Linked DNA regions of Homo sapiens. The protein of the gene in region 1 interacts with the protein of each later gene in a biochemical or structural test. Each region holds a gene or a part of one and is shown on either strand. Other genes may lie near its edges.

Region 1 (7,197 bases):
AGGTGGCTCAACCTTGGATTTGGTTCCAATAAATTGTGAAAATTCTTGTCCAATCAGAACCCCGGGCAGTGCAAGCAGCCAGATTGGCAGGCCCTGAGCCTGGACTCCTGTGAGATTCTGTTTCACGAATTTCCCAGGAGGATTTCTGCACCACTTGGATGCCAATCGCCCTGCCTCCACACCCTCCCTTGGCTCTTACCCCCCATGTTCTCTCCCTCAAAGCTCAGTGGAGTTGGGAATCATAGATAGGCTGGTAAAGAAATCACCCAGATAGTCTACGCGGGAATCATTCCAGTAAGTAATGCCGTTAAAAGATGAGCGTCTTTGACGTGGCTGGGAGACCCGTGTGCTCCTTTGGCGAGTGTCTGCTCACCCACTTCAGGGCCTGGGCACAACCACCGTCTCACATGGGAAGGAGGCCCGTGAAGCCCCACCCCGCCGCGCAGCTGCAACCATCCCGGGCGTAGCCAGTGCACCCATGATCTGTCCGCTGACAGCGCGTCCCTCCATCCTATGTCTGCGCTAAACTAAGTCAGCTTATGAATGAAAAGCAGTGCAAACCGGAGGCACTGACTCCGAAGAAAAGAGTCTTCTCTGCACCCTTCTCATTTACAGATGAGAAAACTCAGTGGGGTGGGAGGGGGGAGAAAGGGCGATGTGACTGGGTCCGGGTTTGCCACAGAACATTTGTGGCGGAGCTCCATTTAGCCGCCCGTGAATTTCCATTCTGTTGCCTGGCAACCGGTTCAGAGGAGCTCAGCGCCCAACCCCGGCCCCTACCCCGCACCCTTTCTCTGCCCGTGCAGCTTGGGCTGCATTGATCAAAGGTTCAGCCTTTGGGGACAATGGCCAAGGGCATGTGAGCCGGGGCACAGGATGGATTACCCCAGTTGAGCTTTCATCCCGCCCCAAACAGAAGCGAGCCCCGCCCGGCCGGGATCCGAGCGCCTTCCGCGGTCCTTTTGGGACTTCCCTCTGCAACCTCCCCTAGTGCCGTGGATACCTCTAAACATACTCATGCCAAGTTTTCAAAGTTCCCAGCCGCTGTCGGATTCCCTAAAAGTCTCGGTGGGAAAACTGCACTCCAAGTTAGGGGGCAAAAGGCGGCAGTTTAGAGGGGAAAATCGTACTGAAGAGCCCTCTTCCCAGGATGGCCACACTCGGGCTGGACTCTCCTGCTGCAGTTGAGTTAACCTGGCCAGAGCTGGGCAGAAGTGAAAAAAAGCGCGGAACGTGCTCAGGGAGTCCGCAAATACACGCCCGCTGGGGACAGCGCTCCCGGAGCCCCGCGGCCCGGCCGGCCAGCCGCCTCTGGGGGCCTCGGCGCGCAGCCCTGCCCGCGGCGCGGGGGAGCGCATGTGCCGCCCACCGCCGCGCAGGTGGCGGGAGCACAGCCTGCCTGTCCCCGCGTTCTCTGGCGCACCAGGCGGGACCCGCGCGCCGGGAGCTCCTCCACCCCCTCACTCCATCCCCTGGGCCCGGGACACTGAAAAGGGGGAAATGTTCTCGTCATTACGTTACCCCAAATCCTTACCCAGGTTCACAAAGCTCATGACCATGTCCGCGTCGTTGAGGAAGGCGCTGTCCTGCGCGCTGGTCAGTGGGGACGCGCCGCCGCTGCCAGATCCGGGGGCCAGAAGGCTCTTGCGGTTGAGCGGGTGCGCGGCGCCCGGGGGCGGCTGCCGACGCTGGGACGAGCTGGCTGCTTCGTGGGGCCAGGACTGCTGCCTCTCCCCCTCCGACGCCCCGTCCTCGTCGTTGTCGGCGGACAGGGCGTTGTACAGATCCAGCATGAAGAGGGGCGCGGACTTCAGTCGCCCGGGAGGGGGCTCTCCGCGAGGCAGCTGCTGCTGCTGCTGCTGCTCCTCCTGCTGCCGGAGCGCCGGGGGCTGCGGCTGTTGGAGGCCGTGCAGGGGCCGGGGCCGGTGCGGGAGCCCCAGCACCGACAAGATCTCCTTCTGCATCTCCCGCTTCTCCTGCGTCTTGAGCCGCCGGTACAGGAAGCCCGAGGAGGACTGCGGCGACGGCGGCGGCTGCTCCGTGCGGCCGGGGCTCCCGCCGTCCCCCAGCAGCTGCCCCCCGGCGGCGGCGGCCGCGGCAGCGGGCAAGGGCGGCCGCAGCGGCGGGGGCCCGCAGCAGCTGCACAGCAGCCCCCACCACCAGCACAGCCACTGCGCCCTCCGCCCCAGCCCCGGCATCCCCGCCCGGCCGGGCTGCCCCCGCGGATCCCGCGAGGCGTGGAGCGGCGGAGCGAGGCCGGAGCGCGGCCGCTGTGGCCCTTGGCGTGAGCAGTCCCCGCCACCTCTCGGCGGGCTCGCTTCCCCTTCCTGGCCCTCAGTCCTTATCTCTCATGGTCGTCCGGGGCGCCCCCAGTTGCCCAGGCTAGAGAGGTGGCGAAGGGGCGATCACCAGGAGAACCGCTTGGAGGGGAGGAAGGGGAGCCTCACAGCCTCGCGCAGGTCTCTAGAGGCGCGCGGTCCAGGCCAGGTGCGTCTGAGTCCGGGCTGCACTGCAGCCTGCGCCCTGGCTCCTGCGAGTCGCGGCGCGGTCACTCTGGGCCTCGCTGGCCGCACACGTGCGCTGCCCCGCGCTCTCCCTGGCGACTGAGTGGGACCCGGGGCAGCGGGGAGCGGGGCCGCTCACGAGCTGCGGGAGATGCCCGGCATCACCGTGGCGCACGCCCCTCCCCAGATCGCAGGGCCACCATGAAGTTTACCCCGTTGCAGGGCCCAGGCTGCGGCGACAAGGCGTCCCGAAATGCCAGTCTATTCCGCGAGGTTTAACTTCCTTCTCGCTCACGAACTCCGCGCCCCTGAGCTCTCGGGCACCGTCGCTCCCACTCAAAATCTCCGCGCGCCGCACGCCTCCTCAAGCGGAGGCGGCGAGGATCTTGCTTTCCGTTCGGCGGTCGCCCGGCTGCCCAGCAAACCCGCTCGCAGAAAGGATGGGAAGGAAGGGGGCTAGTGCACCGAGCAGCGGCCGCGGCGGCGGCGCCGGAATTCGGTCTCCCGCCTCTCCACGCCGCGCTCCCCGCAGCGGCCAACGTGGGCTTTCTGCTGCGCGCCCGGCTCAGGTACCTCACTCCAGCCCCGGGACTCCCCGCCCCGCGGTAACCGACAGGCTGGCAGCCAATGGGGACGCGAAGCTCGCGGGCTATTTAAATAGCCCCGCCCCTTCTTTCACCCTCCCTCTCCCGAGAGGCGTCGCCTCCGCCGCGCGTAGGTTTCAAGACCCGGGAATTCTTGGAGGCATGCGAAGAGCCGCGAGGTGCCAAAGGCGAAGAGGTCATCGCTAGTAAGAATGATCTGACCAATACCCCGATCTGAAGCTTTCTCTTTTACCATCATTTAAAAGGCCTAAGTTGATGCTTTAACTAAATAAAAATAATAACAGCGATTAAATCACTATACTGCCAGAACTGAGGAAGAAAAGAAAAATGATAGCTTTTCCATCCCTTCCTTAGTTTCTCTTATTGATGTAATGTAGGCGTTTAGCGGACACGTGGCTTTCCACGGCAGCTGCTGGAAGTTGGGACACACCCTCCGGGGAGGCTACTCACAAACTGACCACAGAGAGGGCCACATGTAACCCAAGCCAGCGTCCTGAGGGTTTGGGGTCGGATGTGTTGACTTCTCTGTTCATTTGTGCTTTGGTTTGGCTTCTTAAGCTAGCACCCAAAAGAAAGAGGGTGTAATCAGACGATATATTAGAAAAGGCGTCCCCTGTCTTCTTGGAAATGTCTTGATTCTCCAGCTTATCTATTAATGTTGCATTTTAATATTGAAATACAATGTGACTTATATGGTGCAAGATAAAACTTGAGGAGAGGTGATAAAGATAACTCCAGGAAGAGCAGGGGCTTGGCATGCATTCTGAATGGTCAGGACAATAGACAGGGTCCTGAAACACAGGTTCCTGTGGATTTTAGACAAGATAACACCACCACCAACACCATTTGCCAATGAGGACACAAATTCATTTGCCTTTACCCCGCCCGAGAACATCCAGTCATCTATGGATCGTAGAAGCAAATTCACGTAAAACATGAAGGTTTTTTACTTGGTGAAAATTGTGTGGAGTTGAAAATAAAAACTGCAATTTTCTGACTTGCCAGCCTTAGTCCAAATGGTCCTAGGCATTTGAGAGTGAAGTCAAATAGATTATAGACTGTGGGATTCATGAATTTATGAGATCATAGGCTTTCTGTTGGTCCAAATCTTATAAGCATTCCTATCCTATTTCCAAGAATCTATTTCTCATGGGTAAATAGAGACCACCACTGACTCCAACTACCCACTGAGTCCTTCTTTCTAGTTCTGCCTTGGCCCAGACACAAGTGGTCATTTAGAAGAGTCTTTATTTCTACAAATATCTGATAGCTATGAATTTCAGGGCACAAAACTTATGTGAATGCCAGTCTTTAACCATCTCTACAGGGATTTCTTCCATCCGAAAAGATAATACGATACTTTGTCTGGGATGCCCGGACCCTCAGAATTCAAGAGCCCTGTCACTTCTTTTTTCTGTAGGGAACATGTTAGGGACATAAATTCACTGCAGTGCCCCACAGCAGCCAAGAGCTCTGCTCAGAAGATCTGAAATTCCAGCAAATACACCTAGGCTTCCTGCCAAGAGCCTCCTTTTTTAAACCTAGTTGCACCTTCCTCATAAGACTTCTGGTGAGATGCAGGCAGAGTAAAAGACTTTCTACCTACGAGGGCAGTGGGGAAGACACAGGAAACTCAACATTTCAAGCATGGATGAGGGCACCTTGGTGGGGCTATGTCATTTAAAACACAAAATCGAGGGGTGACCCACCTATTGTAGAGGTTGAGCATCCCTAACCCAAAAATCTGACATCCAAAATGCTCCAAAATCTAAAGATTTCTGAGAGCTGACATGATGCCTCAGATGGAAAATTCCACACCTGACCTCATAGGATGGGACATGGTCAAAACACAGTCAAAATTTTCATCCACAAAATCATTTGAAATATTGTATTAAATTACCTTCAGACTATGTATATGAGATATATACGAAACATAAATGAATTTCATGTTTAGACTTGGATCCCATCCCTAAGGTATCTCATTATGTATATGCAAATATTCCAAAATCTAAAAATCTGAAATTTGAAATACTTCTGGTCCCAAGCACTTTGGATAAGGGATACTCAACTTGTGTATGCATCTATGGGGTGGACCTAGTGCAGAAGACACACACACACATGCACACACACGCACGCCATCTCTCCCTTTCCTTAGACACTAAGAAGTAGATGGGTTCATGTGACATGAGTCTAAAGTGACTATCAACTAAACATCTGAGCAGCAACTCTGATTCAGGTCTGTTGCAGGCTCCTCACTCCACCAAGATGGATTCTCAGTTTCTGTCGAATGGGGCTAGAATGAGGAGGTGTCGAGAGTACCTCCAGGTGATGAACATGAGAACGCACATCTCCCTTAAGAGCCAGAAGAAGCTCCTAAAAAAACTGTGCAGTGAGACATTACAATGATCATAAGGACAGTGACATCCAACTGAGGATGTGCTCCTCTTCTGTCCACTATGGCTCCCAACATGTGCACATCATGTTTGCGGGACACATGCAGGCAAGCCCTTGTATCCATTGGGACAAAGGGGACAGGAAGAGATACAGTTCTAGGATTTTAATAACCTTGAAATTGGGACTACTCTTTCTCCAAGCCAGTTGGACCTCTAGGTGGATAAAAATCCCCTAACCCCCACCTTGTCTACTCCCTGCTTCTGGGACCCTTCCCCATTAGACAGCCCGAGTGCTCCCCTGGAAGCCTCAGGACAGGGAGCTAGACAACGTCCACATGTGATTCAAGAGGAGGAGGCATGGGGTGGGTGGAGTTGGAGGGACAGGAGCAGATCTGGGCTTTGAAGTCCGCTGGAATGTATGAACCGACTTGATAAAATTAGAGGTAACTTCGCCCCCTGCAGGACACCAAAATATTACCGCCCCTTCCTCTGCGGGCCCGGAACAAGCTTCATGAAGTTCTCTGTGTTTCTAAAACATCTGGGTGGAAAGAGGAGGAATTCGATCAAGAAGCCGGATGTGGGAGCCAATCCAATCAAACATCTGGTTGCTTGGCTGACATTTCATGCAGATGGCCTTCAGTTTTCTGGCAATACGTTGCCTGTCCCATCTCCCTGCCCCACTTAATGAAGAAATGAGGAGCCCTCACCAGAAAGCACAGGTTCATCCCATACTTCCAGTGATAGTGGGAATAGGACGGGAATTCTGTCTCCAAGTGTTTATTAAGGCACCATGTAATTCACGCAACAAATCCTTTAAACCTGTAGTTGTCCTTGTTCCTTATATATTCTGAGGGTTTCTGTTATACATTTATAACACACTTGACCAAATAGCTTCTATTTTGTAAACATGCTGTTTATTAATTTGACATATTAAACACATATTCTATATTACCTTATTAGCAATAAACTGCAACTTCAGTCTTGGATTTTATATTAAATTTTACATTGGTCCCTTTCAACTGCATTTCCTGAAGATGTAAGTTGCTGCTTTTAGAATTAACTTAATAAAAATATCTTGGCCAGGTATGTAATAGCAACACTTTGAGAGGCTGAGGCAGGCAGATCACTTGAGCCCAGGAGCTCGAGATCAGGCTGGGCAACCTAGTAAGACCTTGTTTCTACAAAAAAAAAAAAAAAAAAAAAATACAAAAATTAGCCGGGTGTGGTGGTGCACGCCTGTAGTTCCAGCTCCTCAGGAGGTTGAGGTGGGAGGATCGCTTGAGCCAGGGAGGTGGAGGTTACAGTGAGCCCAGATCACCAGATCACACCACTGCACTCCAGCCTGGGTGACAGCAAGACCCTGTCTCAAAAAAAAAAAAAAAAAATCTTGTAAACTGTGTAGCTGTCATGTTTAAAAGACTGAGGTCTAGCCTCCTTGAATTATTGAGACGTTCCACTCCAAAGACCAACTTTTTATCTTTACTATTAGCATAAGGACCTGAGTACTTCTTAATGTTAATTTCAAAGTATAATAATTCGATCAAATTTTTAAAATATCGATTTAGAGTTGAGTGAAAAGAAAATAGATAAATGGTTGTAAAGTATGAGAAATGAAAATTTGCAAGTGAAATAAGTATTGCTTCTGAAAGCTACACCTGTAAGACAGCCTTCAAAAGACCTGTCTCATCCAAAAGT
Region 2 (7,267 bases), on another chromosome or scaffold:
CATTTAGTGTGTTACACGTCAAAGACGAATCTATATTTTTGGTGTTTTACAACTGCCTGATAAAACTGCTTGCTTTTACCCTTCTTTCAATGCCTATGTACAGTTTCCCCTAATGAAGCAATAATGATATTTCCATTTTATACAATATATACTACATTTTAGTTTTTAAATGGGCCAGGACAAAGGTCACTAAAAGGGCTTAAATAATTCCATAGAAAACAGAATACAGAGCATAAGCTAAAATTACAATAGTTAATCCTTTACAAGAGCCATATTCACATACTTTCCTTATGGGACCATCATTACACGTGGCTTCACAGGATGCTGTGCTGGATTTTGGTTCTTAGGAACACACCTCCTCCCTGCAGTTTCCACTGTGACTCTCACAGCAGCACACTAAGGCAAGAGACGAGCTGTGGCACTGCTATTTTAACACCTGACTCAAAGTCAGTAATAAATATGACCACTTTTAAACACTACAAGGGCTATCATAATCTTTTGTTAAAATAAAAATCATTTCTGCTGTTGAAATGATTTTAGATATTTAGAAACATTTCAAAACAACATCTATGAAGTATGTTTATGAAAGCTGCCCTGGAATAAATTATTCAATATCAAATTTGATCCTGGGCCAACCCAAAGATGCATGATTCTTTAAAAACTATAGTGCATTTTTGTTCTAAACAGAACAAAGCATCTGAAGAAAAGTACTGATTGTTAGAGTAAATCAAAATTTGGCACGTTCTAGGAAAACATAATTTTAAAAAACTATAGGTCACTTTCTAAGTTTAGAAACACTTCTGGACACTGGAAAGGCAATGTAAAAATACTGATTAAAATAACTTTTGTGAAAATATTTCCAAAGAAATCAGATGCAAGTTTTATACATCAGAAACTTGTTCAGTAAAAAGCACAGTAAAAGCTTAGAATAAACAAACTGAAGGAAACCCTAATGTGCCTTTAATCCTAGAGCTATTTGCCAGCATAAAGAGAATTCACAAGAACTCTCTTTGAGGGTTAACTTTTCCTGTTTATAGTCAGGTAGTTTGGGTTGTTTGCTTTTATATTTTAATTATTTAAAGAGCTATCTGAATGAAGCTACACACTTCAAAAACACTAAATTGCAAGTGGGACCAAATAATGGCTTCCAAGGTTTTACGAATTTACTAACTATGGTACTACATAATACTTCTTCTTGCTGGCCTATCATATTCTTTAAATATTTCACTTAGTCGATGAGCTTCAGATTTAAGAATAAGAGTGGAAAGGAGAGACAAGAACTAAGTTTAATGCAACATTTTTGTTTTTTGTTATTTATTTGTTTGTTTATTTGAGATGGAGTTTCGCTCTTTTGCCCAGGCTGGAGTGCAGTGACACGATCTCAGCTCACTGCAACCTCCACCTTCTGATTTTAAGCAATTCTCCTGCTTCAGCCTCCCGAGTAGCTGGGATTACAGGCACCCGCCACCACGCCTGGCTGAGTTTTTTATTTTTAGTAGAGATGGGGTTTCACCATGTTGGCCAGGCTGGTCTTGAACTCCTGACCTTGTGATCCACCCGCCTCAGCCTCCCAAAGTGTTGGGATTACAGGCGTGAGCCACCGCGCCCGGCCACATTTTTAGATTAAGATTCCAAAGACGGCAGCATTTGCTTTTTAAAGAACATGTTATACTAGAAAATGTTTTTACTGAGCAAGTTTCTAAGATTAACTCTTGATATCACTTTTACTAGACCAAGTTAATTTTAAAAAACCATAATAGTGGTCTCATATACTGGCTGTAATTTTTTGCTTCCACACACCATTTGAACATTTCCAATAAACTTTGCCTGTCTTTATATTTTTATTAAGATGACAAATGAACTTTGGGAGGCCGAGGCAGGTGGATCATGAGGTCAGGAGATTGAGACCATCCTGGCTAACAAGGTGAAACCCCGTCTCTACTAAAAATACAAAAAATTAGCCGGGCGCGGTGGCGGGCGCCTGTAGTCCCAGCTACTCGGGAGGCTGAGGCAGGAGAATGGCGTGAACCCGGGAAGCGGAGCTTGCAGTGAGCCGAGATTGCGCCACTGCAGTCCGCAGTCCAGCCTGGGCGACAGAGCGAGACTCCGTCTCAAAAAAAAAAAAAAAAAGATGACAAATGATTTTAAAGATTATGGTATCAAGTCAAAAGTAAACCAAGATTTAAGTAAATTGGGTGTTCTAAGTGCAATCATATCATACGGCAACGCAGATTAAAATATTTGTATTTCTCAGTATACATATGGTGAAAAATTCTGAAAAAACAAGTTATTGGGTATTATCCATATGCAAATTTACTTATCTTGATGAACACTTCAGACTTTAATTATGGCAGATGAAACTTATTAATCAAAATGGTTAAGGCAATTTTCAAATTTGTGAAATTTGATGTGCAGACAAATTTGTAAGTTTTAACCTTAAATGATAGTCAAATTTTGGTAATGGGTGGACATATGCTGATTTCCTCCCATTTAATTTAAACCTTTTTGATGATGATGTGATATAATCACATTTATTTTATGTTATAATCAAATAAAACTATCTCACTTGATGTACTCATGAATTGTTTGCTCAGAATAAATATTTAAAAAGCATTAAAGAAGTATAAGTTTATGTAAATCAGATTTCTTGAGATAACAAGGCATCTATAAAATATGAACCATTTTATTGAAGAACAGTTATACAGTGTAGCTACAGATACTGACTAGATACTAAATATTTCTGCCTGATTTTTCATTGTCTTCACAAGTTAGGGAATAGAAATCAAAAAACCAAAAATCTCAAATGATTTAGCTGTCCAGAACATATTTGACAGTTGATAAATTTATAACAGCTCTGACATATAAATTTCTAATTAGAGAATCCTTTCATTTGAAAAAATTGAGATGATATTACCCTAATGAAGTTTTTACCTGAAGTTAACAAAGTCCTGGATTTGATATATTACTTTGAATGCATTAATTCTGAAAATTTATATTTAGTTCTACTTTATAACATTTCTTCTCTTAAGGATGGGATATGAGGTACACATGAGCTGGTTTCTACAGTATGAATGTATGTACATATATAAAGTATGGTTGTAAAGGAGTGGGTGATTTGCAAATAAAGCACATTATACACAAAATATAAATAACTTCCCTTTTAAAAGTTACTGAGAATAAAGAATATAGAACATGGTTATAGGCACTTACATTGCTATCAAATGCAGGAATTCACTTCAATAAGAAGTGCTTTCTTTGTAAGCATGGTTCATGGCAATAGAAGCTCCAACTTTGGAGAGGATGCTTTCCGTGACAAAAATAATAACCACAAAAAAAATGGTGGTTGAAGGAAAACAGTCCAAATTTACAGATGCTTTAAACTTCTTTTGGCCTTGGCATCAGCTTTCATGTTAAAAAATAAAGCTGGTGGGGAAGCTATCTCACTTGCAAAGTAAATGGCTTGTATGAGATTGGCGAATCTTGGTCAGATATTGCATTTTTAAAGCACAAAACCACCGGCCACCAATATCTTCCTGTGCATGCATATAAATTATTTTCTTCTAATTCAAATGGCAGCAGAGGAATCCCGGCGTGCATGTGCATGGAGACACACACACATCACTAAGGACACAGGACAAACTATCATAAAATAAGCAGTATCCCAAACACATCATCATCTATAGGCTGTTTTACAAAGGTAGAATACAAACGAACTGAAAGTCTCAGGTAAAAGGCAAAGTCTATTTCTCCATCTCTGCTGCGCTCATTTATCTTCTTAAGGCTTTCACAGAAAGCACCGTTTTATGAACAGGCAATTCAGTACCCAGAGCTTGACTGGAGACACTAATCAGGATTGAAGTCTTGATGCAGTTCATAAAAACCCACTTAAAAAAAGGCATCAAAAACCACATTTAAAATAAAGCTGTCCATATATAAAGAATGAAGTGTTTAGAAGTTCCCAGCTTGTATCCTAATAAGAGTACTGAAAGGTTTAATATTAGCAGCCTGTGAACACGTAGTGAAGAAAGAGTCTGAGAACCAAGTTAACATCCTTATTCCACTCTAATTCCACCCATGCCATGGGTAAAAACAGTTCTTGCAGTCTAGAGTTTCTCCTCCGATGGTTTAACCATCAGATTTTTACATCTTGGGATTCAACCATCTTGGCAAGCGTCTTCTTAATTCTCAATGCTGTGAGTCTGGAGGCTGGATTGTGGGCCCAGCATTCTGACATTAGCTTCAAAACTGCTCGTAGACACTGAAAAGTAAAGAGATGTTCAGTGAGCAGAGAATATATTTGGTGGCATTTACGAATCACTTCTTCAGGGGACTGAGTTCCACTCACTTCATCACTGTTCCACCGATTAGACACAATTGGCCGCAAACGTTTGACACACACAACCTCACGCATATCTTCGTATGACGGATCACTCGGTACCATGTTGTAATATGGCAATTGGTATTCTTCCACGATCCCTATAAGGGAATGAGAAAACATGGGCACAAAAATGGTTGCTGGACAAGATATACCAATCTAGTAAGCATCTTTTGCTAAACTATGGAACTAAAACGGATTCTTACACAAGAAAAAATATAGACACTATGATTCACTCTTAATAGTAGATGTATGTTTTTCTCTTATTTATGTCCAACTATTTCCTCTACCTCCACCAGGGATGTCATCACAACTGTGATAGAGTCCATCGACAAAGGGCATATCAATCTTCCTTAAAAAAAATAAGCAAGGCGAAATCAGCCATTTACCCTAAAGTATAATTATTTACTTATATGGTTGTTCCTACTAATGAATAGTTTTTATTATTTTGTTTCATTTTGCTCTGCAGTAGAAAGACTTATGAGGTGCAGATAAGGGTTCACACAGCAGGCCTGAGACCTTCCCTTAGGAAAGGCGGCTTGCAAGGTTTGGCCTTGGCCAGTGCCCGGGTACACAAATGGTAAACAGTTCCCTACATGGATATAAAACTTACCGGAAACGGTGAGGGTAACTCACCACTCCTGGGCTGCTTGTGCAAACAATGTGGTGTGTACTGCACGTCTGCTTTCCTGCTGGAATTCTGGTACATGCCAGGCAGAGGATGCCTATGTGACCAGCCTCCAGTAAAATCTCTGGGTGCCAAGTCTCTAAGGAGCTTTCCCGAATGAGAACACTTTGTATGTGTTGTCACAACTAGTAAGAGGAATGAAGCACACGCCCTGACTCCGCTGGGACAGGATTCTGGGAAGCCTCGCCTGGTTTTCTAAACTTGGCTGATTTTGATTTGTATCCTTTCACTGGGATAAATGTTAGCCATTGGGACAACCACATGCCGAGTCCTGTGGTCCTTCAAGTGAAATCGCACAACCTGGGGGTGGTCTTGGGGACTCTGACGTATGTGACATCTAAATTACGTAACTGCCAGCAATTGCACTCCTAGGTGTATACCCAAAAGAAAGGAAATCAGCTAACCGAAGAGATACCTGCACCCTCATGTTTGCTGCAGCACTGTTCACAATAGCCAAGATGTGGAAGCAACCTAAGTGACCATCAACAGATGAACACATCAAGAAAATGTGGCACCTACACACAATGGAGTATCATTCAGCCAGAAAAAAGAATGAGATTCTGCCTTCTGAAATAACATGGAGGAACTGGATGTCATAACGTTAAGTAAAATAAGCCAGGCACAGAAAGACAAACTTCACATGTTCTCACTTACTTGTGAGATCTAAAAATCAAAACAACTGAACTCATGGAGAACAGAAGGATGGTTACCAGAGGTTGGGAAGGGTAGCAGCAGATGGGGGGGGATGTTTAATAAGTAGAGACAAAATAGAAGAATGAATAAGTATTTGGTATTTTATAGCACAACGGGGAGGACTACAGTTAGTAATAATTTAATTGTACACTTAAAAATAACTCAAGGAGTATAACTGGTTGGTGAAACAAAGGATAAATGTCTGAAGGGACAGATATCCAATTCTCCAAGATGTGATTATTACACATGGCATGCCTGTATCAAAATAACTCCTTATCCAATAATATATACACCTACTATGTGCCCACAAAAATTAAAAACTAAAAAGTTATATAACTGGAGCTGTTATTTTTAAAATGATGAGTAAATCAACATAATCAGAAACTACTCAAACTCCCACCTCCTGTGATACAACGACGAGCCATCTCCCAAATGATTAGGCCGAAGCTGTAGATGTCAGCCATGATGTAGGGCTGGAAGTGGTTTTTGTTCAGGCTTTCGTCCAGCACTTCGGGAGCCATGTAGCGTTTGGTGCCCACCCTGGTATTCAAGGGCACATCAACTTCATTTGTGTCACTGAAACAAAAGAAAGCCAAGGTCCAAGTTGAGGGCCAAAAATAAAATAGTTTATCTTGTATTTTTGTCCTATTTTATAAAAGCTTCTTTTTCTCCTTGGGGCCAGATGCATTGTGGAATTTAGCATTTTTCAGATTTTTCTTTAAATACATGCTACATACTACATGACATCCTCAGCAGGGTTGGGGCAGCACTCTTAATCCAACTCAGTACTCAGTACTGTGTCTACAGCAAAACACTAAGTCCGATAGTCCTCCTCAACTGGATAAGGGCAATACACACCTCACATCCGTTCAGGTCAGGTTTTGTCACTAAATAAGTCTGGTGTCTAAGAAAGAGGACAACACTGAATATAAGATAAAGTTAAGCCAGGCACGGTTGCTCATGCCTGTAATCTCAGCACTTTGGGAGGCCAAGGCGGGCGCATCACCTGAGGTCAGGTGTTCAAGATCAGCCTGGCCAACATGGTAAAACACTGTCTCTATAAAATACAAAAGTTAACCAGGGTTGGTGGCACATGACTATAATTCCAGCTACTTGGGAGGCTGAAGCACGAAAATTACTTGAACCTGGGAGGCGGAGACTGCAGTGAGCCGAGACCATGCCACTGCACTCCAGCCTGGGCAACAGAGTGAGAATCTCTCTCAAAAAAAAAAAAAAAAAGAAAAGAAAAGGAAAAAAAAAAGATAAAGTAGTAGATAATTATGTCTGAGAAGTGGTGAATATGAAAATACAAGAGGAATCGCTTGCTTTTACCACTCTCATATGATACACTAAGGCTTTGTGACATAGGATTACATTTTCTTCTTTATGGGTCCCATCAACAGAGTTCTGTTGTTAGCAATGTTTACATGATCATACTGACAATTAGTAATAATTACTCTAAAGCAGTGATCAATATAATGCGTTGTATTTTCCTATAGCATCTGATAAAT

What was found. The genes of interacting proteins can lie anywhere in the genome.
Region 2: the proteins of BMP6 (region 1) and BMPR1A form a complex in vitro, tested with the Homo sapiens proteins (one study listed by BioGRID).

The regions. Positions count from the first base shown.
Region 1 is NC_000006.12:7,721,957-7,729,153, reverse strand, and holds the start of BMP6 (bone morphogenetic protein 6 preproprotein), read right to left. Parts: upstream 3,056-7,197; 5' UTR 2,199-3,055; coding exon 1,535-2,198; intron 1-1,534. UniProt on the Homo sapiens protein: Growth factor of the TGF-beta superfamily that plays essential roles in many developmental processes including cartilage and bone formation.
Region 2 is NC_000010.11:86,920,585-86,927,851, reverse strand, and holds part of BMPR1A (bone morphogenetic protein receptor type-1A isoform 3 precursor), read right to left. Parts: intron 6,333-7,267; coding exon 6,157-6,332; intron 4,477-6,156; coding exon 4,346-4,476; intron 4,259-4,345; coding exon 4,133-4,258; 3' UTR 1-4,132. UniProt on the Homo sapiens protein: On ligand binding, forms a receptor complex consisting of two type II and two type I transmembrane serine/threonine kinases.